7 linked regions of the Homo sapiens genome follow. The protein of the gene in region 5 interacts with the protein of the main gene of each other region in a biochemical or structural test. Each region holds a gene or a part of one and is shown on either strand. Other genes may lie near its edges. The genes, in order: PXN, PDGFRB, LCK, NTRK1, PTPRB, GAB1 and NSF.

What was found.
Region 1: of the proteins of PTPRB (region 5) and PXN, one has a biochemical effect on the other in vitro, tested with the Homo sapiens proteins (one large-scale study listed by IntAct).
Region 2: of the proteins of PTPRB (region 5) and PDGFRB, one has a biochemical effect on the other in vitro, tested with the Homo sapiens proteins (one large-scale study listed by IntAct).
Region 3: of the proteins of PTPRB (region 5) and LCK, one has a biochemical effect on the other in vitro, tested with the Homo sapiens proteins (one large-scale study listed by IntAct).
Region 4: of the proteins of PTPRB (region 5) and NTRK1, one has a biochemical effect on the other in vitro, tested with the Homo sapiens proteins (one large-scale study listed by IntAct).
Region 6: of the proteins of PTPRB (region 5) and GAB1, one has a biochemical effect on the other in vitro, tested with the Homo sapiens proteins (one large-scale study listed by IntAct).
Region 7: of the proteins of PTPRB (region 5) and NSF, one has a biochemical effect on the other in vitro, tested with the Homo sapiens proteins (one large-scale study listed by IntAct).

What each region holds. Positions count from the first base shown.
Region 1 is NC_000012.12:120,220,731-120,224,230, forward strand, and holds part of PXN (paxillin), read right to left. Parts: coding exon 3,421-3,500; exon of another isoform or gene 3,104-3,420; coding exon 2,988-3,103; exon of another isoform or gene 2,270-2,987; coding exon 2,133-2,269; exon of another isoform or gene 2,021-2,132; coding exon 1,819-2,020; exon of another isoform or gene 1,029-1,818; coding exon 893-1,028; exon of another isoform or gene 585-892; intron 196-584; exon of another isoform or gene 1-195. UniProt on the Homo sapiens protein: Cytoskeletal protein involved in actin-membrane attachment at sites of cell adhesion to the extracellular matrix (focal adhesion). Recruits other proteins such as TRIM15 to focal adhesion.
Region 2 is NC_000005.10:150,131,846-150,135,345, forward strand, and holds part of PDGFRB (platelet-derived growth factor receptor beta isoform 1 precursor), read right to left. Parts: intron 3,172-3,500; coding exon 2,905-3,171; coding exon of another isoform or gene 2,871-2,904; intron 2,164-2,870; coding exon 2,036-2,163; intron 1,916-2,035; coding exon 1,741-1,915; intron 1,098-1,740; coding exon 905-1,097; intron 250-904; coding exon 134-249; intron 1-133. UniProt on the Homo sapiens protein: Tyrosine-protein kinase that acts as a cell-surface receptor for homodimeric PDGFB and PDGFD and for heterodimers formed by PDGFA and PDGFB, and plays an essential role in the regulation of embryonic development, cell proliferation, survival, differentiation, chemotaxis and migration.
Region 3 is NC_000001.11:32,278,765-32,282,264, forward strand, and holds part of LCK (tyrosine-protein kinase Lck), read left to right. Parts: intron 1-906; coding exon 907-983; intron 984-1,076; coding exon 1,077-1,230; intron 1,231-1,314; coding exon 1,315-1,446; intron 1,447-3,500. UniProt on the Homo sapiens protein: Non-receptor tyrosine-protein kinase that plays an essential role in the selection and maturation of developing T-cells in the thymus and in the function of mature T-cells. Plays a key role in T-cell antigen receptor (TCR)-linked signal transduction pathways.
Region 4 is NC_000001.11:156,870,865-156,874,364, forward strand, and holds part of NTRK1 (high affinity nerve growth factor receptor isoform 2 precursor), read left to right. Parts: intron 1-758; coding exon 759-891; intron 892-2,768; coding exon 2,769-3,095; intron 3,096-3,500. UniProt on the Homo sapiens protein: Receptor tyrosine kinase involved in the development and the maturation of the central and peripheral nervous systems through regulation of proliferation, differentiation and survival of sympathetic and nervous neurons.
Region 5 is NC_000012.12:70,515,430-70,518,929, reverse strand, and holds the end of PTPRB (receptor-type tyrosine-protein phosphatase beta), read left to right. Parts: 3' UTR 1-3,060; downstream 3,061-3,500. UniProt on the Homo sapiens protein: Plays an important role in blood vessel remodeling and angiogenesis. Not necessary for the initial formation of blood vessels, but is essential for their maintenance and remodeling. Can induce dephosphorylation of TEK/TIE2, CDH5/VE-cadherin and KDR/VEGFR-2.
Region 6 is NC_000004.12:143,469,376-143,472,875, reverse strand, and holds part of GAB1 (GRB2-associated-binding protein 1), read right to left. Parts: 3' UTR 1-3,500. UniProt on the Homo sapiens protein: Adapter protein that plays a role in intracellular signaling cascades triggered by activated receptor-type kinases. Plays a role in FGFR1 signaling. Probably involved in signaling by the epidermal growth factor receptor (EGFR) and the insulin receptor (INSR).
Region 7 is NC_000017.11:46,593,669-46,597,168, reverse strand, and holds part of NSF (vesicle-fusing ATPase), read right to left. Parts: intron 1-3,500.

The sequences.
Region 1 (3,500 bases), about 50 Mb from region 5:
GTCACAGGGCCAGGCTCAACCCTCCACCCCAGCCACACTCCTGTCTCCCACCATGAAACCTCAGCTGAAGGGAGGCTAGGAGACACCATCAGGGCCAAGGGTGCAGGGACCGTTCACTCCCCTCTCATATTCCCTAGGTCATGCCCCAAAGGTCTCCAGCTGACCCACGTGGAAGTATGAAGTCAGCAGCTGCTGGTGAGTTCTGTCAATATCAATCCCCAAGGAAACACTGAATCCTCTAAATTAAACATCTCAGGCCTGGCAGGACTGGGGAGGCCCAGCAGGGGAGGGGAAGGGCAGGTACCTCGTGCAAGCCTGGCCCCATGGTTTCCCACAGACACGCTCGTGGGAACTCAGAGGCCCTGGAGGGCGAGAGGGAAGGATGGGAGAAGAGTAGCAAGGGAGGCTTGTGGATTCAGGATCAGAGGCAGAAAGAAAGAGGATGTGTTGAGGACAGCTAGCGTGGGAGATGGGGCTCCAGGGCAAATGACCTCCCAGGCACAGGCTCCCAAGTCCCACATGGCCCAGCAGAGAATGCCCTCCCCCACCCAGAGCAGCCATCAACACAAGGTTCTTTGTCCCAGCGTCCCAGCCTCCTGATCCCCTCGACCTGAGAGGCTGGGAGCACCCAGGGAGGAAGGAATGTCCCAGCTGAGCACTTCTCCAGCTTGTCTGCCTTCACTGGCTACTGCAATCCTCAGGCAGGCTGACCCGGCCCTCCCTCCCCATCTCCTGGCATCACAGCAAGGCCAGGGCATGACAGTGTCCCTGGCTCAGGGGCAAGGCACCCAAACACTGAGATGCCAAGATCCAGCTACCCACACTGAGGTAAGGGAGGAGAAGGATGAGGGAGGGGCGGCAGGGCAGGGAAGATGGAGGGTTCACAGGGCACCTTGAAATCCGACAGCGAAGCCATCAGCTCGTCCAGCTCCCTGGTGGCAGAGGAGGCCGAGATGCGTGTCTGCTGTTGGGTGGAGGTGACGCGCTGCGGGCTGCTCATCTCGCCCTGGTTCACAGTGATGGCAGGGCTGCAGGGTGGGCACAGCATCAGTGGGGAGCCCACAGTCAGCCCCACACTTCCCGGGGATCAGATCGACCTCTCACCTCGGACACTGGGGTCTCACCATCCCCAACCCCAGGGAGGTCCACCAGCTCCCTGTCTCTCCTGGGGACCCATCACTGGGTCAGAAGAAAGGGCAGTTCAATGGCACCAGGAAGTGCCAGGAAGACTCCTCTAGCCCCCAGCCCAAGTGAAAGCTGGCCTGCGAAACAAGCCCAAGCGCCCTGTGTTTCCTCCACAACACTGGACATGGAGGTGAGGCTACTGCAGTAACACGACGGCACTGGTAAGAGCTCGCGTGTTGGGCACTCACCATGTGTGCCACGCACTACACACCAGAAACCATTCCAAGCGCTTTACATGGATTACTGGTTCTCACCCTTACTGAGGTAGGTGGTCTTATCCCAGTGATCCCATAAGTTCTTGTCCCATTTTACAGATGGGAAAACTAAGGCTTGAGAGCTGACAGTAACTGTCAGAGCCAAGATGTGAACCCCACTGTGTGGCCCCAAAGCCTGTGCTAAGAGCTGCTAAGCTCCAGGCGCCCTCAGCCTGCACAACGTCTGTCCTTTCTGACTGGCAGTGACTGGCTGAAGGCAGGGATGGTGTCCATGTGACTCACCACTATCCCCCCAGTGCCTGGCAAATGGCAGACACGGGAGGGAGTGGGTGATACCAGGGCTAAGGGGACAGACACTGGACCCGGGGCAGGCTGGGCCAGCCCTTCCCCACCTGGGGAGGGCCCAGTGGGTACTCACACGGGGCTGGGCACGGAGCTCTCCAGTTCATCCAAGAGACTCTCCACACTGGGCCGCACGTCCTCCAGGCCCCGGCCCCCATTCCGCTTAGGCTTCTCTTTCGTCAGGGGCCCAGCTTTGCCTCCCAAGGGGCTGTTAGTCTCTGGGACACCATAGAGGGGGCTCAGGGCCCCAGGAAGCGGGGGGCTTGAGTTGGCCTCATCTTGCAGAGAGGAGAGAAAAAGGCTGCTCAGCCCTTGAGCCCTCCTGGGATCTAGAGGTCAGCAGATGGGCCCTGGGCCCTGGTAGACCCTGCCCCAGGGACCCGGTCCTACCTGCAGGGAAGCCTGGCGGGTTATGCTGTACAGCGTTCAGTTCCAGCAGCAGGCGGTCGAGTTCAGAAAGGTTGCTGCCCAGGGACGTGCTCATTACGGTGGGTGAAGGCTCAGCTGATTTCTGCTTGTTGGGGAAGCTTTGAGAGGCAAAGGAAAGAAGATAGTGAGAGATGCTTTCTGGCCTTGTACTGGCTTGGCAGTTCCCAGATTCCCAAGGAGAACAAGGCAGAGGAGATGCGAAGTCTTCCCCCGCAAGAGGACAGAGGGTAGGGAAGGGATGTGGTAAGAAGAGGGGAGGAGGCCGGGCACAGTGGCTCACGCCTGTAATCCCAGCACTTTGGGAGGCTGAGGCGGGCAGATCATGAGGTCAGGAGATTGAGACCATCCTGGCTAACACGGTGAAACCCCGTCTCTACTAAAAATTAGCCAGGCGTGGTGGTGGGTGCCTGTAGTCCCAGCTACTTGGGAGGCTGAGGCAGGAGAATGGCGTGAACCCAGGAGGCGGAGCTTGCAGTGAGCCGAGATCGCGCGACTGCACTCCAGCCTGGGCGACAGAGTGACAGAGCGAGACCCCGTCTCAAAAAAAAAGAAAAAAAGAAGAGGGGAGGAATGAAGTCTTGCTTCAGTTCCTCAGCTACACGGAGATGCTGTGATAGCCCAGAATGTCCACTGCATGGAGATGGCACTGATGAGGTAGACGGGCCCACCGACAGGCCTTCTGCAGCTTAAACCAGAATAACCCCACAAGGCCCAGTTGCTATGCCTGCTCCCGGGCCTCCGCTGCCTCCCACCCTGGCCAGGTCCCTGAGATTTCTAAGCAGGAGGGAAGGTGCCCTGGGCAGACTGGGGCAGTACCTGTAGACGTGCTCCTCCTCACCCACTCGGGAGCACGGAGAGCCAACACTGTCCTGAGGGTTGGAGACACTGGAAGTTTTGGCACTGGAGCCGTACACAGGTGATGAGGACTGAGGCTGCGAGAAGGAGAATGCTCAGAGGCTACCCCGAGGGGAGAAAAAGGAACAGGGGCCAGGAGCAGCTCCAGTCACCCCCAGGAGGCTCCTGCCCACAGCCAGTCTCACCAGGGAATTTCCACAGTTGGGCCAGGAAACCTGTGATTAACCACTTGGTCACTGTTCCACTCACGTGGTGAGTGGGAAGAGCAGTGTCTGGTTGGGAAGGGTCGACTGCCCCAATTCCATTCCATCCCCTGGCTCCCTAAGCCCCTGCCAGCTAAGTTCCCTCTGTCCCCCAGCCTCCTTGGCCTTCCCAGCCACTGTCCCCGCCTCACCTGCTGGTGGATGAATCGGGAGCTGCTGGGCTGCCACTGGTCTAAGGGGTCAAGGATTGTGCCATTGAGGGCCTCGCTGG
Region 2 (3,500 bases), on a different chromosome or scaffold from region 5:
CTAGAATCCATCTCCTGAGTTCCAGGCTCCCTCTCCCACTCCTCCCATGGGTGGGTGGACAGTGCAGGAAGGGAGAGGGAACGGGGGCAGGGAGGGGAAGGAGCAGGGACATGGCGAGGGGCGTGCTCATCACCATTGATCTGTAGCTGGAAGGAGAGCTGGACCTCAGCATCCTCATGGAAGGCCCGCATGGTGTAGTGGCCAGCCTCTGCCACCTTCACGCGAACCAGTGTCAGCTCTGACACATACCTGGGGAGCAGGAAAGGCAGCTGTCAGAGTCGGAAGGACTCTTACAGTTCTCCCCACCCTCCTGGTATAAAGAGGAACAAGGCCCAGGGAGGGGAAGGGCTTGCCAAGGTCATCTCGGCATTGGTAGCAGAGCCGGGACTCAAACCAGGTCTCGTAAATCCTCACCCACAGGCAGTTCCCCTAGGCCAAGAGGGAGGGTTGAGATGAACTGTGGGTGGGGGTGGGGAGCATTGAAGGAAAGTCCTATTTCTCTCCCCTTCAGAAAGGTGGACACTGCTCCATCCTAACCTACCACAGTCTCTGTCAGCCAGCAAATCTCCAGCCTCAGGGATACCACAGGCCATGAGTGGCCTGCCTGGCACCCTCTTCCCCAGTCATCTGCCCGTTTACTTCTTGGCTGCTACTGCTGGCCCCACCCATCACAAGGACAACTAAACATCTGGGTGATCATCTGACCGGCGACTGTTTCCTCCACTAGACTAGAAACTCTAGGAGGGATGAACTGTCAGCTCTGGTCGCTGCAGCATCCCCAGCACCTGGCACCTAATATGCTCTCAGAAAGCTGGGCCTAGGTTTGTGGCTGAAAGCCGAGGGCTGCCTGGCGGCTGCAAAGAAAAATAACTTCAAGAATGGGATGGGAGAGCGAGCTGCTCACCGGGTCTCCGACACGTTGCGCGTGGACAGGGCGATTTCGCCAGCGCTGGAGTCGCCCAGGGTGCGGTTGTCTTTGAACCACAGGACAGTGGGCGGTGGGTAGGCCTCGAACACTACCTGCAGTGTCCGGCTCCGATGCAGCTCAGCAAATTGTAGTGTGCCCACCTCTCCCAGGAGCCGCACGTAGCCGCTCTCTGCAAGGGGTGACCGTCAGGGGCGGGGCCCTGGGGGCAGGGCACCAACTGAATCCCAAAGGAGGCCAGCCTGTGGGGTGGGGCTTCAGGCCTGGGGACCGTGCCAGCCATGGAGTTTCCGGAGCTGAGGTTGAAATTGGGCTGGGGACAGGGCCTGGAGAAGGGGCCGAATTTGGGGCTAATATGGATGCTGGGGCCAGCTCCCAGGTTGGGAACAGAGTTGTACTAACAGTTCTCTGTTCTGGGTCAGTACTGTGGCTGATGCTGGGACTAGTGATAAGGTTGAATTTGGGGATGGGGCTTCCCGGACCTGGGATGGCAGTTGGGCTTGGAAGTCAGGTTGGGGCTGGGGCTCTGGCTAGTCAGAAAGTCTAGGTTGAGATAGGGTTGGATTTGGGGCTGACACTACATTTTGGTTTGGGGTTTATCCTGGAATTGGGGTTTTGGTTGGCACAGAGGCTAGCTAGGGCTGCACTGGAGTGTGGCTGACTATACCCCGGGGCTGTGACAGGCACTGGGTCCAGCTCAGCCCTGATCACTGTATCAAAAATGCAACTCTCACCATCACTCTGCACCCAGCAAAGTGGGTGAGGGTGGGGAGCGTTGAAGGAATTGGGGATTGGGCTGAGCCCAAGGCACACACCAACCACGGTGATGTTGATGGCCTTTTCATCCTGATGGTCATTCACACTCTCCGTCACATTGCAGGTGTAGGTCCCCGAGTCTTCTAACTCGGCACTGGGGATGTGCAGGATGGAGCGGATGTGGTAAGGCATATCCAAGAGGAAGTCAGTCACCGGCTCCACCAGCCGCCCACTCTGCAGCAACAGGTTGGGCAGGCCCCCCAAATCAGGAGGGGCCGGGGAGAAATCAGCCTGCAAGCCAGATATCCACCCGTTCCTGGCCCCTCCTCCGACCCCTGCCTGGCCCCACATTACTTCTTTGCGGGGGTATGTCCACTCGAAGTTGACCACCTCATTCCCGATCACAATGCACATGAGGGTGATGTTCTCACCCTGGCGGACCACAGTCTGCACTGCGTTCACAGAGACGTTGATGGATGACACTGGTAGAGAGAGATTGGCTTAGGTCTGGGGAAGTCACCACCAGCCACTAGCACTTCAGCTTGGGGATAGGGTAGGGGGCTAGAGAGGGAAAGGATGACTGATGTAGAAGATTCATTCATTCAACAAATATTTACTGAATACCTACTACATGCCAAGTACTATTCTGGACACTGGAGCAACAGTAGTGAACAAAGTGGACAAAATCTCTGTTCTTATGGAGCTGACGTTCTAGAAGGGATAACAGTCTGGAAATCAAAGTACCCTCTGGAGATCTATGTACAGGAGAAATGTATTGAGCACATAACATGTGCCAGGTACTCTCCATCTTTTATTTAATCTTCACAATTGATCCTATGAGGTAGGCAGCCATTGTTATCCCCACGTTACAAGAGGGGAAGCAGGCTCAGAGAGATTATGTGCTTTGTGTAAAGTCACTCAGACAGGAAATAGCAAAGCTGGGATTTCGACCCAGCTGGCTCTGAAGCTTGTGCCCTCACCGACCATGTTGCACAGGCCAGCTCTGCCACTATCGAATTCTGCGACAGGGGACAAGCTCCATCCTCTCTCTGCGCCTGAGTTTCCCTCTTCTGTAACATGGGGAAAACACTATCTTCCTTCGAAGGCTGTGGTGAGAATCCACTGGGAAGTGGAGTCCCACACTTTGTAAACTGTAAAGGGCTATTCCTCTGTGGAGGGTTATACTTGCCTCTGCTGAGCATCAGGCCAGAAAGGGGGCTCACCCTGGAGTCTGTAGACATAGTAGGCATCAGAATCCACCTCCCTGTCCCCAATGGTGGTTTTGCAGATGTAGCTTCTGTCCTCAAAGATACCAGAAAAGCCACGTTGGTGATCATAGGGGACAGGCAGTGCAACGTCCCCTTTCTTCTCGTGCAGTGTCACCACCAGCTGTGGGTCTGTTACTCGGCATGGAATGGTGATCTCAGTTATTTCCGTGAGAAAGATGAATAGTTCCTCGGCATCATTAGGGAGGAAGCCCACGGTGGGATCTGCCAGGAGTGGAGCCGTGAATAAATCAGGGGAACTGGGTTTCTGGCCATCCCCTGAATTGCTGTGTGGCAAGTCATTTGCCATCTCTGGCCCTCTGTCTCCCCGTTACAGAATAGGGATGCTCCCAGAAGAGCATAAATCAAATGTTAGAGCTGGTCCCTTCCAGCTCTAATGTTTGATATTGACAGTGCCAGGGTAAGAAAGAAGGCAAGTCACAAGTTGAAATGCAGCTGATATCTGGAGCTTGGAGAATGGGGAAGAAGGGATGTGGGGTCAAGAGGGAGCAGATTGGAAGCAGCTGAGAATATAGAGTTCTTGGGAGGCAGGA
Region 3 (3,500 bases), on a different chromosome or scaffold from region 5:
ATATCTATGTCTATGTATTTGCTGTGTGTAGGTGAGGTCTTTGTCTTTGGTAACTAGTTCAGCACTCAAAGTGGGGACACTCAGGTTGCTGTCATCCTTTTACAGGGTTTTAATCTCTTGGGAAGGGCCATTGGTCACTCACTGCATCCTAGCAACTCCCATCCATGTCCAGCTGCCCTCCACTATTAGAGAGGTGGTCCCTCAGACCCCCAGACCCCCTCTTTCTTATTCCATCCAATATATTCAGCACATAGTTATTGTTTCTTACTCTCGGCTGGGCACCAGGAACATGGATGGATGAAACAAGGTTCCTGTTGTCAGGGAAACCTGATTTTAGTTACAGCTACTGGGGAAACCAGAGTTTGTGCCATGGGAAAGTTCCAGCATGCCCATGGGAGTGTAGATGATGATCCAGTTTATTATGCCTGGTAGGATCTAGAGAGGCTTCCTAGTGGGGCAGTCTAGCAGGGCCACGAAAGAAAAGTAGAATTTTTTTTAGCAGGCAGAGATGAAACAAAGAGGCTTTGGGGTGAGAGCCTAGTGGTCTGAGTGCAGGATCTCAAAATTGCTAAACTGTTTGAAGTCAAAGGCAGAGTGGGGGAAAGAGAAGAAGCTACCAGTGTGGACCATGCCAAGCTTAGGATACTAGTTGAGGATTCTAGGTTCTACCTTATTGGTGATGAAAAACCTACAGATCCCTCCCAGCATGCTCTACCCTAGCCCCTCTGCAAAAAAACCTTTACATATCCTGGGCATCCTTACCCTGAACACACACTCCTCCATTCTCACTCTTCAATCTTCCTTTTCACATGTCAGACACACTTCTAGACTCCCAGTTGGAGGAGAAAGGTCTGGGGGCCTCCCCCTGGGGCAACTTGGGCCAGCAACTCTTGCTTCTGCCCACAGGGAGTCTAGTGGATTTTCTCAAGACCCCTTCAGGCATCAAGTTGACCATCAACAAACTCCTGGACATGGCAGCCCAAGTAAGGAGACTGGGGAGGGGGGCTGGGCAAGGGAACAGACCAGTGACGTGAAGACATCTGGCTCAGGACCGCTGATCTGTGTTTGGCCTGCAGATTGCAGAAGGCATGGCATTCATTGAAGAGCGGAATTATATTCATCGTGACCTTCGGGCTGCCAACATTCTGGTGTCTGACACCCTGAGCTGCAAGATTGCAGACTTTGGCCTAGCACGCCTCATTGAGGACAACGAGTACACAGCCAGGGAGGGTACGTGTGAGATTTAAGGGTGGTCTGGGCCCTGCAGGGTCTGGCCAAGCAGACCCAGGTGACCTCACTCTGCCTCCTCCTTAGGGGCCAAGTTTCCCATTAAGTGGACAGCGCCAGAAGCCATTAACTACGGGACATTCACCATCAAGTCAGATGTGTGGTCTTTTGGGATCCTGCTGACGGAAATTGTCACCCACGGCCGCATCCCTTACCCAGGTTAGAGCCAAGGGCAGGAACTGAAAGGGTGATGGGAAGGGCAAGTCCATGTCTTCCCATTCAATTCTTTCCAGTCTCAGAATCTGAAACTTTGTAGCTGCATCTCCTCTATCTTCTCAGGGGTATGAGTCCAACGTCCCCAGGCAGATGCCACATCTCCCAGGGCTGGCTTCCATCTCCGTATCTCTCTTTAATAACCCCAGCTCTTTTCTTTTTCTCTTTTTTTCTTTTTCTTTTTTTTTTTTTTTTTTTTTTTTTTTTTTGAGACGGAGTCTTGCTCTGTCTCCCAGGCTGGGGTGCAGTGGCGCCATCTTGGATCACTGCAACCTCTGCCTCCTGGGTTCAAGTGATTCTCCTGCCTCAGCCTCCCAAATAGCTAGGATTACAGGTACGTGCCACCATGCGCAGCTAATTTTTTGTATTTTTAGTAGAGACAGGGTTTCACCATGTTAGCCAGGATGGCCTCAATCTCCTGACCTCGTGATTGGCCTGCCTCGGCCTCCCAGTGTTGGGATTACAGGCGTGAGCCACCACACCCGGCCCCAGCTCTTTTCTTTAGTTCTGGCCCAGGCAGCCTGGTATGGTAGAAGAAGATCTAGCTCAGGAACAAGAGGCCTACCTTTTATCAGCAGATCTGCCACTGTTGCTAACTTTCTGTTTGGCTTTGTTCAGATCATTACTGTAACTAGTGAAGCTAGTCACTTCACTTCTCTAAGCCTCAGTTTCCTGATACTAAAAATAAGAGACTAGGCCAGGTACAGTGGCTTATGCCTATAATCTCAGAACTTTGGGAGACCAAGGTGGGAGGACTGCTTGAGCCCAGGAGTTCGAGACCAGCCTGGGAAACTGGTCGAAACCCCATCTCTACAAAAACAAAAGTTAGCCAGGTTTGGTGGCATGTGCCTCTAGTCCCAGCTACTCAGAAGGCTGAGGTGGGAGGATCACCTGAGCCAGGGAGGCAGAGGTTGCAGTGAGCCAAGACCATGCCATAACACTCCAGCCTAGGGCAATAGACCAAGACCCTGTCTCAAAACAAGAAAAAGAGAGACTCCATCTCTACAAAAAAAAAAAAACAAACAAACAAAAAAAACATTTAAAAATTAGCTGGGCATGGTGGCACACACCCGTAGTTTCAGCTATTTGGGAGGCTGAGGTGGGAGGATCATTTGAGCCCAGGAGGTTGAGGGTGCAGTGAGCCATGATTGTTCTATTGCACTCCAGCCTGAGCAACAGAGAGAGAATTTGTCTCAAAAAAAAAAAAAAAGAAAAAGAAAAAGAAAAAAGAAAAAATGAGAGACCATTTGTGAAAGAGCCTGACTCATAGTAGGTTGTCAGTATACACTGACTCCTCCCACCATCTCCTGGACAAAGCCCTTTACCCCTGAATTCAGCCAAGACAGGGATGGAATTTTTGAAAGGAACTTGCTAAGAAACTCTGGGGAAAGGAAATGGAGCATAAAGACAGGAGTAGGGGGGTCATGCGGCACAGTGGCTAGATTTGTAGAAGCTTCCCATATCCCCAGAGCAAGGTGAACAGACCTTTGCTCCAAGGAAGGTAAAGACACCTTGGAAGGCCGGATGCAGTGGCTCACACCTGTAATACCAGCACTTTGGGAGGCCGAGGCGGGTGGATCACAAGGTCAGGTGTTCGAGACCAGCCTGACCAACATGGTGAAACCCCGTCTCTACTAAAAAAAATATATATAAAAATTATCTGGGCATGGTGGCACGCGCCTGTAACCCTAGATACTCAGGAGGCTGAGGCAGGAGAATTGCTTGAACCCAGGAGGCAGAGGTTGCAGTGAGCTGAGATCATGCCACCGCACTCCAGCCTGGGTGACAAAGTGAGACTCTGTTTCAAAACAAAAACAAAAACAACCACCTTGGAAACAGGTGAAAAGCTGAGGGGCTTCCCTGCCCTGGGCTTGCCCCAAACCAGCGTCCAGGGGTAGTGCTGGAGCTGGAAATACAGAAATATTCTCCAGTTATCCTGCCAGGGGTCCTCACTGCTCCTTCCCGGTTCCCACAGAGGCAAACCCATAGGGAATGTATCT
Region 4 (3,500 bases), on a different chromosome or scaffold from region 5:
TCCACGGTTTCCTAGGAAGAGAAACTTGATCTGATTCAATCCTGACGATGATTCAGAATCAAGTCACTTTGCCTGTCTAACCTCACCCATGGTCCTCATCTGCTGCAGGAGGCGATGCCGCTGCTGTTGTTTCTAACTGCTGCTGTGCTATTTGCACCATCTCTTTGTTTCTGATCTTCCTTGGGCTGAGACTCAGTTTGTTAGAACTGTGTGTAAAACAGGAATGAATAGGCAGTGAGGTCCTAGTGGGGTCTCCAACGAGCTGTGTACAAATTTGGTACTTGGGATGCGTGACATCTGTTTAGCTGCTCAGATGGCTGGTTTTAGTTTCAGTTTGGGATATTTTGTGCCTATTTTGAGGCTACTGGTTAGATTTTAGATTTTTCAGATAATTAAATACGTGATCCAGGCTGGGCGCAGTGGCTCACGCCTGTAATCCCAATACTTTGGGAGGCCGAGGTGAGAGGATTGCTTGAGGCCCTGTTCAAGACCAGCCTGGGCAGGACAGTAAGACCCCGTCGCTACAAAAATAAAACATAAAATAAAAAAAAAATGTGATCCAGGAGATAGTCAACGAACAAACCTAAAGGAGGAAGGCCATTATCTGCTACATTCTCTCCCACCCCTCTCTCCCTTCTCTTCCCTCCCAGCCCTCCTCTCCTTTCCATCTGGAGCCAGAGGGGCTCTCCAAAGACTTCAGCCCCAGCCCCAAGCTGGCTAAAGCTCCTTCTTATTCCCCCCTCTCTTTCCTGATCTAGAAATCTGGGGGTCTGCCATCCCTGGGGCTGACCCTGGCCAATGTCACCAGTGACCTCAACAGGAAGAACGTGACGTGCTGGGCAGAGAACGATGTGGGCCGGGCAGAGGTCTCTGTTCAGGTCAACGTCTCCTGTGAGTCTCAGTGGCAGCTCCGGCACCCACCCCCTACTCATCTCTTCTTCCCTCAAAAGAGGATGTAGGGTGGGGGGCTGGAAGAAAGGGTGGGATGTGTGTCTCCACAGCTGCTCCCTCCCAGCTGTTTCCAGATTCCCATGAAAACCTGATCCTTTGGGGGAAGTCCTGGGGTCTTGTCAAGGCCAGAGGGATGGAGATGGATTTCTTTCTGGCCCCCTGCCCGAGCCTTGCTACCTGAGGCCCTCAACGCCAGATGCCCGGCTGTTCCCACTGCTCCGAAGTATTTTTTCATGCCCGTCCCTCATCGGGTCCTTCTCCCCGCATCCTAGTTTCAAAAGAGGAAATTCTCCTCCTGAGTTCCTCTTTACGCTCGCTGCCTAATTTCTCTAGATCAGCCAACAAATTATCTTAAATATTCTACTTTACATCAGTTTTCTTCTTTTATTGTGAAATATACATAGAAATGTGCAAAAAATATATATATTTTAAACAATAATTACTCTTACCAGCATCACGGAAGATCCCCCACCACCCAACACCTCTCCCTGTTCGCAATCCCATCCCACTCTCCCATCTCATGTTGACTTTTGTCAGGATAACCATTTCCTTGCTTTTAAAAATAATTTTTCTCAAATATGCTTTCCTATCGGTATCATTTAGTTTTGCCTGTTCTTGTACATTATATAAATGGAATCATACTGCGTGTATTATTTTGTATCTGGTTTCTTTCATTCAACATTATATTTATAAGATTCATTCATGTTAATGGGAGTTGCTATATGTAGCTCATGCAATTCATTGCTAAATAGTATTCCTATGTATGAATGCTATATTATATATATATATACATATATTTATGCATACATACACTTTTTTTCTATCATTGAGGGGCTTTTACTTTTACCAGATTGGGTCTATTTCTTTTTTTTTTTTTTGAGATGGAGTCTCGCTCTGTCACCCAGGCTGGAGTGCAGTGGCGCGCTCTCGGCTCACTTCAAGCTCCGCCTCCCAGGTTCACGTCATTCTCCTGCTTCAGCCTCCTGAGTATCTGGGACTACAGGCGCCCTCCACCACGCCCAGCTAATTTTTTGTATTTTTTTAGTGGAGACGGGGTTTCACCGTGTTAGCCAGGATGGTCTCGATCTCCTGACCTCGTGATCCGCCCGCCTCGGCCTCCCAAAGTATTGGAATTACAGGCGTGAGCCACCGCGCCTGGCCCAGATTGGGTCTATTTCAAACGCATATCTTTTTTCAAAAAGAGTGTGTGTGTGTGTGTGTGTGTGTGTGTGTGTGTGTGTGTGTGTTTGAAGAGATGGGGTCTCAGCCTGTTGCCCAGGCTGGAATGCTTTGGGATCATAACTCACTGCAGCCTTGAACTCCTGGCCTCAAGCGATCCTCCCACCTCAGCCCCCTGAGTAGCTGGGATTACAGGAGCAAGTCACTGTGCCTGGCTTTTCCCCAAAAATTTAACTGTATATATTTTTGGCTGGTTTGATTGTTAGGGCCCCTGACCCATCTTCTTCAGCTTGGTTACACTGACTTCTTCTAGATTCCTTATCCCAAAGACTCCATGTTTAATTGTCATAAGCTGATACCCCACTCCTGTGGGGCTGTGACTTATTTATGGCCCACCACTTATGTTCTTTAAGCCTCTAAATTTTATATGCCTGCTGCCTGATTTATTTAAAATGTATTGTCAACTTTCTTCAAAACATCTCTCCTTGGTGAATTTCCCAGGGCCTGCTGACCTGTTTCTCCCAGGCCTGCCCTTTGATTTCGGGTTCTACTCGCTTTGCCCGTGGACTTGTCGGGTGTGTGCCAGGCTCCCTCCAGCTGCGCCCTGACCTCCTGCTGTTGCTCTTTCTGGCCCACAGTCCCGGCCAGTGTGCAGCTGCACACGGCGGTGGAGATGCACCACTGGTGCATCCCCTTCTCTGTGGATGGGCAGCCGGCACCGTCTCTGCGCTGGCTCTTCAATGGCTCCGTGCTCAATGAGACCAGCTTCATCTTCACTGAGTTCCTGGAGCCGGCAGCCAATGAGACCGTGCGGCACGGGTGTCTGCGCCTCAACCAGCCCACCCACGTCAACAACGGCAACTACACGCTGCTGGCTGCCAACCCCTTCGGCCAGGCCTCCGCCTCCATCATGGCTGCCTTCATGGACAACCCTTTCGAGTTCAACCCCGAGGACCCCATCCCTGGTGCGAGGGCCATCCTGAACCCTGCCCCCACTCCTGGGCTCCTCCTGGGTTACAGCCAACTTCCTGCTATAGCCCTGACCCCAGAAATTGGAGTGCCTGGTTCGGGACAGAAAGGAGTCTGGAGTCCTGGTGTCCCGCTGTTCTGGCCTCCTTACCCTCTCCCCAAGCCAGGACTCCTGAACTCCTGAGCTATTCCGTCCTTGTCGGCTGGCTGAGGAGACAGCCATGCAGCAGGGCATCCTGGCCCAGCTGGAAAAGGGTCACATGCATCTTCTTCCTTGAGGCCCAGCAGCCCACCTCCATCCCCCCTCGTCCCATGAAGGAATGAGTCCCAGAGTAGGCAGGGGACTCACTGCTTTCCTCCTCCCTCTGACTGCTTTCTCTCCTCCCTCTGACTGCTTTCTC
Region 5 (3,500 bases):
TCTTGGTAAACACTCCATTTCCTGTCTTGGTGGGCATCCTGTCTGTGTACCTGTGCAGTACACTTTAATCATCAAGACTTCAAAGTGCTTTTGAGCTATCAAATCTTGGGAGAGTCCCATCTAGCATCTTAATAATTATTTTTCCAAGTTCGTTATAATTAACTCCTTTAACCTCATCTCATTAAATCAATTTTGTATTGTCATTCTGTTGTTCTCTGGAAAGCAGCCAATTGTTCAGCTCTTGAATCAGAATTTTCAAAGACTCACCTCTCTTACCTGGGCTTGCACATATTTGTCCTAAGTAATTCTCTATCCCTTAAACCTCTGAGTCCCTCTGTTTTATTACTTGCCCCACTCCTCCTACTTGAATATGTTTGTTTTCCCAGTTGAATGTGATTTTTATCTACTGTTCATATTATCTTTTATACCCATGAGTATAATTTCATAGTCCTTTCAGGTTCCACATCATCAAAGAGATGACCATAATTTCACTTTTTTTTGAAATGAAGTCTTGCTCTGTTGCCCAGGCTGGAGTGCAGTGGCACAATCTCAGCTCACTACAACCTCCGCCTCCCAGGTTCAAGCGATTCTGCCTTAGCCTCCCAAGTAGCTGGAATTACAGGTGCCTGCCACCATGTCTGGCTAATTTTTGTGTTTTTAGTAGAGATGGGGTTTCACCATGTTGGCCAGGCTGGTCTTGAACTCGTGACCTTAGGTGATCCACCCACCTCAACCTCCCAAAGTGCTAGGATTACAAGAGTGAGCCACCGCACCTGGCCAATTCACTTTTAAATACTAAAAGGCACACAGCACACAGACATTTTCGGGGCAGTTTTCTTTGGGAGGGTCTTTGATAAATTTTGTAATCACCTCTCGGAAGAAAGCCCAAAATGACATGTGAAAATAATATTAAACCATTTACCAGATGTCCAGCAATATAAAAATAGACCTCACATGCTACCCTTCACATGCTGATTCTCTTGCCTTGCTGTTTAAGGATCCAGTTTCTTATGTTAAACATTTTCCTTACCTTTTGCAATAATATTATTGGCCATATACTAAATTCTCATTCACTTAGCTTTCTAAGAATTCTTTGAGGTTGGAATCCTGAAATCATAAAGCTACCAGATCTGCACAACAGCAGTGGTAGTATCTGAGCCCAAACTCTGAGACGCTCTAGAGTTTTAGTTTACAAACATGAGCCAGACCAAACCTGACCTGGTGAAAATCAATAGGTAATAAACTGCTTGTATATGATAGCAGTTCAAGGGCTTTCTGGGTTCCATTTCACTGAGGAAATGAAAATATAACTGATTAGCCAAGACAGAGTGGCAATAAGGAATAACTGATCCTCCTCCAAGTTGCAGTGAGCAAGCCCTCAAGCCTACCTCATTCCTGAAGAGTTGAAGGAGAAAATGCCGTGCTAATTTTCTGCCCTGCTATTTTTAACCTGAAATTTAGAATTACATCAGGTATTCAAAGAATGTTCCCTATCAAAGGAAAATCTGTAAACGATGACTGCAAAAAGCAAGTGAAATGATGCAAAGAGAAAATATTTGCAAAACAGAATCTAACCAGACATCATCATGAAGATAAAATGGCATCTCTTCTGTGTGGCCTGGGTGTGCTTGGACAATCCTGTCACACGTTTCTATTAGGACATGTTGCCCTTTTGAGGATTCACTCTATGTTGGCCAGATGGTTTAACTGATTAAACAATTGAATCAATTTATTTTGCTTTTTGAATTGACCAGATATTTAACTAAATGTACTGGGTTTGGCATTTTAGACACACTGCCTTAGATTCTTGTAGTGCATGATGACTTTGAAAATGTTTGGCCATTTTAGTTAAAATGCAGGGTAACATTTGATGCAGCCATGATAACAGGAAAAATCTGTTCTGTTCTAAAAATGTTTCTAGCAATAGAAGTATTTCTGGCTAAGAGAATACTCTTGACTTGTAGGGAGGCTCCCTCGGAATAAATGTATGCAACACAAATAAGGCATTTTATTTTTTAAAAGATTGTCTATATAAGATACACTTATTAAATAAAGAAATTGTTGGTGAATGCTCTGAAAATAGAGGCTTATGTAATGGAAATAAGAGATTAACAGGTTTACCAAAGATTATTTTTATAACCTCTATGCCAATTCACATGATCTTATATAAGACACCAAAATAAGTTATTCAAAACTGTGAATAATGTCAGACAAATGCAATGTGTCCCTTCTAGAACAGTCACAAAAAGAATTGGTTATAGCTATTTTAATAAATAATATCCTCACCCCAAGAACAAACGTTCAGTTATGCTGAGATGTTCTAATAGCTGTGTGCGTAGATAAGCACCTCCATCAAGAAAGGAACACATGAAATTGTGGCTTTAAGAGTTTGTGGCAGAGTTGGACAGCATTCCATCTGCAGGTTAGTAGGAAAGCCTGTACCAGCCTTTGTGGAATGTCCTAGTCTGCCACACTGACAAGAGGGTGCACCAGTGCTCTACTGGAAGAGTATTTCTGGTTTTCTATGCAGGACTATTGGGCTTATAAATTCCTCAAGAACAAGGACCAAGTCTTTAATCTCGTCTCGACTCCTACCTTGTGGAAATTAGTGCACAGCTCATAGACATTCTACACACACTTCTTGAAATTGCTCCTGGCCTGATATTTTGGATGTTAGGTAGTCAGTGTCCAATAATACTGTTGTCCGTGCAGGTTAATCTAGCCATTCCTTCATTTGTGTGAAGCATAAATAATGTAAGTAAATACAGCAACTGAACTTTTTATGTTCTATAATAGAGCACTTTTATGTTTTTAATATCATTTATTATTTCTCTGAAAATCCAGTTAAGATGGCAGATGATTCTATTTTTTCATATTATAGCATCTACCCACAATATTTCTAACTAACTGTATTTGAACAAAGAACTTCCTTAGTCTTTCAATTTAAATTATGTATTTGCTTAATACATTTTTATATTTGTAACTGTGGTAAAAAAAAAATCTATATAGCATCTTGCATACATTCTCACTAGTACAGGAATAAAACTGCAGTTTGTTGAAGGAGAGTGCTCTGTCTTCTATTCACCTGCTCCTCATTTATCAATTTTTGTCATCTGTCTGTTCAGGAGAAAGGCCAAAAGTGACTGCTTTAAAATGAGAAAAATCTTCCAGGACATTATCATGAAGAATATAGTTGTCTTAACCTTTAGTCCTGTAAGTACTGAGTTGGTTACCTACAGTATTGTGTACATAATAATAGACTCTCCAGCTGACCGTCTCCAACTAAATTCCTGTTTTCAGTTCTTTACTTCATTAATAACCAAAATGTCATCTGTTACCAACAGTGTTGGTGTACTCTCAGAGGTACTGCCCTGGCTAGATTTCCACTGAGCCCTTCAGAGACACTTCACACATTTGCGGACAGTGTGGCATTTGGTAAAGAGACGCCATGACTATTTCCAGAGTTATGAGTTTGCCCTTTTGCCTTTTTCATATTTTAG
Region 6 (3,500 bases), on a different chromosome or scaffold from region 5:
ATATATATAAATGTGCATGTAACATCAGATGTTATTGACAGTAGTTGTTACCATAGAATGCATGTATCTTTCTCACTGTGTGTATCCACTTAATTTGTTCATATGTCCAATCCCTGTCACGGACCTGATTGCTTACTTGACAGTGGAGGAGAAGACCTACCAGAATGACCCGAAGACAGAAATGGGAAGGATCAGCCCACCTCAGCATTATTAGAGGGCCAAAGGCTCTGTAGTGAAAGTAGTAATACCAACACTTTCAACGGGCCAAAAAAGAGGCACTAGGAGTGTTTGTGAACACCCAAGAATTATGATCAGTATCTACAGCATAGTGTGTAGGCATAAAGTAGTTAATATTTTAACAAAATATAAAAATACTGTTTTCTCTAAAGGGGGAAGCAGACAACTTCCCATAAGTAGAAAAAGAAAAACACTGGTGTTCAATTTCAGGTTTAAATGCATTTATGAAGGAAGACTATAATCCCCATTAATTAAATATAAAAGAGTCCAGCAGAAATTATGACCTTAATGTACAAGTAAAGTAGTATTTCTATATCAAATTAAATTTAGTCTATGATTAAATACAATGCTATATATACACACACATACAGACACACTCATAGTACCTTTATGGAATTCTCTAAAATGCTCACAGTAACTTATATAGTATTGATAATGATAAAGATGTATAAACTGAAGTGTAGATTTAAAAAATCTTTTACATCTTACTAAATGATATCTTCCATGGGTTAAACAGCTTTTTCAAGTTTGAATTTTAATTTTTGAAAGCAGAACTGTGCTTCAGTATTCAAACCTTCATAAAATCTTACAATTTTTCAGAATAAGGAATTAAGGTAAAGAACTCTAATGTGGAAGAAAGATTTCCAATCTCCAAGATCATAACTGTCACATCGTTAACCAGTGGTTTTTAGCCCATTCCTGGCCAAAGTCTAGCTTCTTGGAGGTGAGTTAAAAGGGTTTGATTCAAATTTAGTTTTTATACGTGCATATTTTAAAACCTAATAAAAACGCACATTCTGATGTGTTACATACCCTACTTTACCACACTGGAGACTGCTTATGTATTAACTTCCACTACCAGGATAACTTATTTTTGTATAGACCTTGAATAACTTTAGCTATCTCTAATTAAAGAATTTCCTGAGATGTATGTTTAAAACCTATTATTTTTGCTTACATTTGTGTGAATCAAAATTTTCTTGATAGTATACAAATAAAACAGGGCATAGCTATAAATTGGCTGCTGGTTTCATCAACTATGTATAACTCCACATTTGTGTTATTCAGAAATAACTCAGAATCTTATTATGCTTAGTAATGAGCCAAAATGAATAAGCATAAATGTGAACCCAAAATACATTTATATTGATAAAATTGAGTTTTCAGGCTTTATGTATTGGGGTTATACATAAAATTTCATCTAAAAAGATTCTAGTGCTAAAAATGTTTGGAAAATACTGCTCTGTAAGAAACTTTTAATTTAATTCTCTAATACAATGTTCAATGTGATTTAGTTTTCTAAAGCAAACTGCCTTTCTAATACATCACCATTTTTAAATTATTCAGAATGAAAAATTTTCTGAAAATCAGAGTGCTACAGATCTTCAAATATGGTGACTTGTAAAAAGTTAATGATAAGTTAGACTAAAAACATTCATTAAGTGCTTTAGACCCTTGATAGGCAGCTGTAAAGATTTTTATTTTTGAATTAATCATGTATTTATTATTGTGTTTTAAATCTTAAATATATTCATCCTCCAAGTAACAGAATTTAGCATCTTTACACATTAGCTGTATCGTGTGTTTTGATAGTTTAGGCACATTTCAGGATTTTAGATTTCATTTTGTTGTTTCATTATAAAACAGCTTGCACACCAAACTCAATCAATCTTTTTTATTTAAAAATCCACCTAAAAATTCACTTCTGGGTTTTAGTTTTTGTTTAAAAAGAAGCAAATATTTAAAAGCATCAAATGTTACTAGTCTACAATTCATCTTGTTATGAACATTTTTAGTTTGAGGATTGGGAAAATAAACCTATTACATTGATTAGGCACAGTACTATGGCCAATGGGCCAGAAATCAGGGCACATCTGTGTACTCAGGCAACAGTTAGAGGTCTGAATGGAGGGGGTCATGCCTCAACTGTGGGCACTCCTTTCTCTATGCCCCCTCCAAAAATTGTTATAAGTCTCAAATCAGTACATGAGATTGTATGTAACTTGGTTAAAAAACAACTATACGTGCTTTCTAAATTATGTTGCAAAGCCAAGACAGACGAATATAATTGTAGCCTCACTACAACTTGTGGTCTTAATATCTATGTCACAGGACCATGTTATAGGTGAGACAGAATTATACCATCCCTCTGGTGTTTTCAGAAATCTGGTTGGAAGGAGTCCATGACTATAACATTTCACATTGTAGCAAGGCTCCAATATTTCTTGAATTGGGGCAGTGAATATAAATCACAGTACAAAATCCGTAATTCTTTCAGTGGAAAAGCAACAGGTGCTACATACGAGAATCACTTATATAACATCTATTTTTTTTAAAAAAATGCAGATATAAAATATTAATTGCATAGGGAATTAAATATAAGGCCAAGAAGAATATTAAGTAAAAAAAATCATAGAAAGGGCACTATGGTGTCAAAAGACAGAATTTCATAGAGTAATAAATCTGAATTACTATCTAATTAAAAATCACAGTATGTTGCTGTAACTAACAGTGAATGTCAACTGCTTTATTAATTCCAAACTGAAAACCAATATTAGGACTAACAAGAACACAACCAAAGCTCATTGTCTAAACCTGATCAGTGTATTAGCACATCACTGCCTGGTACGTACCTGATTGGTTACATAATCTACCTTTTGCAAATAACACTTAATACATGTTAACAAGTGTAAGAGCACATCATCACTGCATGCCATCAATGATTTGCAGGCTTACTTGGTAGTGTAATTATTCAGTCTTTCAAAGGTGCAAGATCCCACCCGGCAGAATCTTCACTCAATGAACCAAAAACACTGTAATTAACAAAATATAACAAAGTTCCACCATTAAAAACTAAATGTACATTAACCAGAGAACTAGGTCCTGACACCAGTACATACATTATCCTCAGCATTTTGGAAGGCAACAAATGATGAGTCCAAGTATAAGCTAATGGTTATCACCTGAAGCTTCAGGTAGAAAGCTAACTTGTGAATCTACCTCTCATTTTAATGTTGTTAGACTGTAAACAGCAATTTCCAAATCTAAAAGTAGCTTAGTTGACTTAGTATTGTTATATAAAGTAGTGTGACAAAAAACAAGAACTCCCAAAGGAATTATGGTAAGGTACATTGGGAAAACCCAGAACAATGTTTTAGATGAAAAAGTGCATAAATACAGTAATACTACGAGTGTGTTAACTGTGGAACAAATGTTTCTCTGGGAGCTAAACAATACTATTTTCCCACATTATTTACATGTTA
Region 7 (3,500 bases), on a different chromosome or scaffold from region 5:
GTGATTCATATGGGACCAAAAAAGGAAAAAGAAAAAAGCCCAAACAACCAAACCAAACCTGGGCAAAAAGAACAAAGCTGCAGACATCACATTATCTGACTTCAAAATATATTATAAAGCTATAGTAACCAAAACAGCATGGTATTGGTATAAAAATAGACATGTAGACCAATGGAACAGAATAGAGAATCCAGAAATAAAACCACATAATTATAGACAAATGATCTTCAACAACACTGACAAGAACTCACACTAAGGAAAGGACACTGTCTTCAATAAATGATGCTGGGAAAATTGCATAACTTCATGCAGAAGTGTGAAACTAGACCCCTATCTCTCACCATATACAAAAATCAACTCAAAATGGATTGAAGATTTTAAGACCCAAAACTATAAAAATACTACAAGAAAGTCTAGGGAAAACACTCCTGGACATTGGTGTAAGCAAAGAATTTATGATTAAGACATCAAAAGCCCAGGTAACATAAAGAAAACTAAACAAATGGGACTTAAGCAAACTAAAAAGCTTCTGCACAGCAAAAGAATAATCAACAGAATGAAGAGACAACCTGTTGAATGGGAGAAAATATTTGCAAAGTATTCATCAAGCAGAGGACTGATATCCAGAACATACAAGGAACTCGAACAACTCAAAAGGAAAATAACAAATAATCCCATTAAAAAAGAAGACATACAATGGCCAAAAGAAGACATGGAAAAATGTTCCACACCACTATCAGAGAAATGCACATCAAAACCACAATGAGATATCATCTTACCCCAGTCAGAATGGCTATTATTAAAAAGACAAAAAGTAACAGATGTTAGTAAGGATGCAGAGAAAAGGGAACTCTCACATACACTGTCGGTGGGAATGTAAACTAGTACAACCACTAAGGAACACTGTATGGAGATTTCTCAAAGCTAAAAATAGAATTACCTTCCATCCAGCAATCCCACTACTGGGTATCTACACAAAGGAAAAGAAATCAATGTATCAAAGGGATAGCTGCACTTGCATGTTTATTGCAGTACTATCACAATAGCAAAAATATGGAATCAACCACCTAAGTGTCCATCTACAGATGAATGGATAAAGAAGATGTCATACATGTACACAATGGAATACTATTCAGCCATAAAAAGAATGAAATCATATCATTTGCAGCAATGTGGATGGAACTGGAGGTTATTCTCTTAAGTGAAATAAGCCAGGCACAAAAAGACAAATATTGCATGCTTTCACATATATGTAGGAGCTACAAAATTTGAACACAAGGAGGCAGGGAGTGGAAAAATAGATAACAGAGACTGGGAAGGCGGAGTAAGGGAGAGAAAGGCTGAAGAGAAGTGGGTTAAAAGGTAAAAAGATCCAATGAGGTCAGTCGCGGTGGCTCATACTTGTAATCTCAGCACTTTGGGAGGCCAAGGCGGGTGGATCACCAGGTCAGGAGTCCAAGACCATCCTGACCAATGTGGTAAAACCCTGTCTCTACTAAAAATACAAAAATTAGCTGGGCGTGGTGGCACATGCCTGTAATCCTAGCTACTCAGGAGGCTGAGGCGGGAGAATCGCTTGAACCCGGGAGGCAGAGGTTGCAGTGAGGCCAAGATAACACCACTGCACTCCAGCCTGGGTGACGGAGCAAGACTCCGTCTCAAAAAAAAAAAAAAAAGATCCAGTGATAGGAGGAATAAATTCAATGTTTGATAGCTGAGTAGATGACTATACTTAATACATTGGACTCATGTACCCTGACTTGATCACTACACATTATACACATGTAAAAAAATTTTCATGTACTCCATAAATATGCACAAATAAAAGTATTGCAACAAGGTGAACTATTTTTGCTAAAAATCACTCAGTAGTTACTAGAAAATAAAGGCTATCAGAAGAAATGATAGACAATCAGATGGGCCAAAGTTTTTCAGATTTTCCAAAAGGTAGAAGATAGTTTCTGAACATTATTATGTCCAAAAAGTTCTAGGTGAGGTAAACCTAGTCTTTACTACACTCTTGCAACTAAGCTGGTGAACTAGGTAACAGTACCAGGCTGATCTGAGTTCAAATCTTGACCCTGCTTCTTGCTGGCTATGTGAACTTCTCAAGTTACTAAATCTCTCTCTCTTTCTCTCTGCAAAAAAACAAAGATAATACTACCTACTTTGCAGGTTGTTTTGTTGGAATTAAATGAGACACATCTGTATTTAAGCAACAGTGCCCAAGTGTATTAATGGGTATCAGTCTAGAGGCATGTCACTGGCAGCATGTCCAAGGGTTATTTCTGACCCTGTCTTATTCTATCCTTTACCAATAACTCAAACGTAGAAACAGAAGTCATGATTAAACCTACAGATCTAACCAAACTGGAAGAGACAGCTATTATGTTTCCTAACATGAAAGAACTAAGAATCCAGATTACCTCAACAAACAGCAGACATGCACTGACCTAAAAAAATGAATTGTAAAAGGATAAGGTCTTGATTTAGGTTCAATAAAACTGCTCTAAACCTAGAATGGAGCTAGGGAGCTGATTTTAAAAGAACATGAGTTTTCACTGACTACAAGCTCAGTATGAGCCAAGAATGTGATTTACTATAGAAAAAACGCTAATACAATTTTATCTGGTATGAATAATGGTAGTGTCCATCTCAAGACAATAATAGCTTAAGTACATTCTTCTCTGATCACTGTGTTCCACTCTGGGCACATTTTAGAAGAAAGGTTGACAAAACAGTAACATTAGGTTACTTCCAGAGGAAGGTAGCCTAAATGATGAAGGGTTTGGAATATGAAATATGCTAGGAATTGGGGGATGTTTAACTTGCAAAATCGAAAATCTGAGGAGATATGTAACCTGTATTCAAGTAAATGAGTAGCTTGAGTAGCTATTACATGGAAAAAGAATTGTGTTTAGTTCCGTATGGCTTGAAACAGCAGAAATAGTAACTACGTATAAAAGTTACATGGAACTCCAGATAACAAAGACCTAACATAGCTGTATGACATTACAGGCAAGCTTTAGGGTAATATACCATCTATCACCAGAGTGTTCAGAGACTGATTCATTTTCAACAAAAATGTATTGAGTACCTAAGTCCCACAAGGTACACAAAGCGCAGTTGATAATGACTAAATAACTTGTATGTTCTCTGCTTTTCACTGAGGTGAAGTGGTAGAAGCAAATAATAACACACACTCAAAGTAACAAAAAGATAAATCTCTAAGGAGAGGAATACAGTTCTTCAAGAGTATATAACAAAGGATCCTGACTTATAATGTGGGGTCAGAGTAGGCCTCCCTTGAGTAGCTAAGTGATGTCTGAGTAGGAGGTAAATGGTTGGGGGGAAGAACGTTACAAAGAAAGGAAACACCACTCGCAAAGACCTTGTGGTAAGAGAAACTACAGGTTCAAGGAATTGAAAGGCTCGTTTACCATATAACCTGAGCACACAGAGTAAGAGAATGAGTGGAAAGAAGCAGGAGCAGAACCACA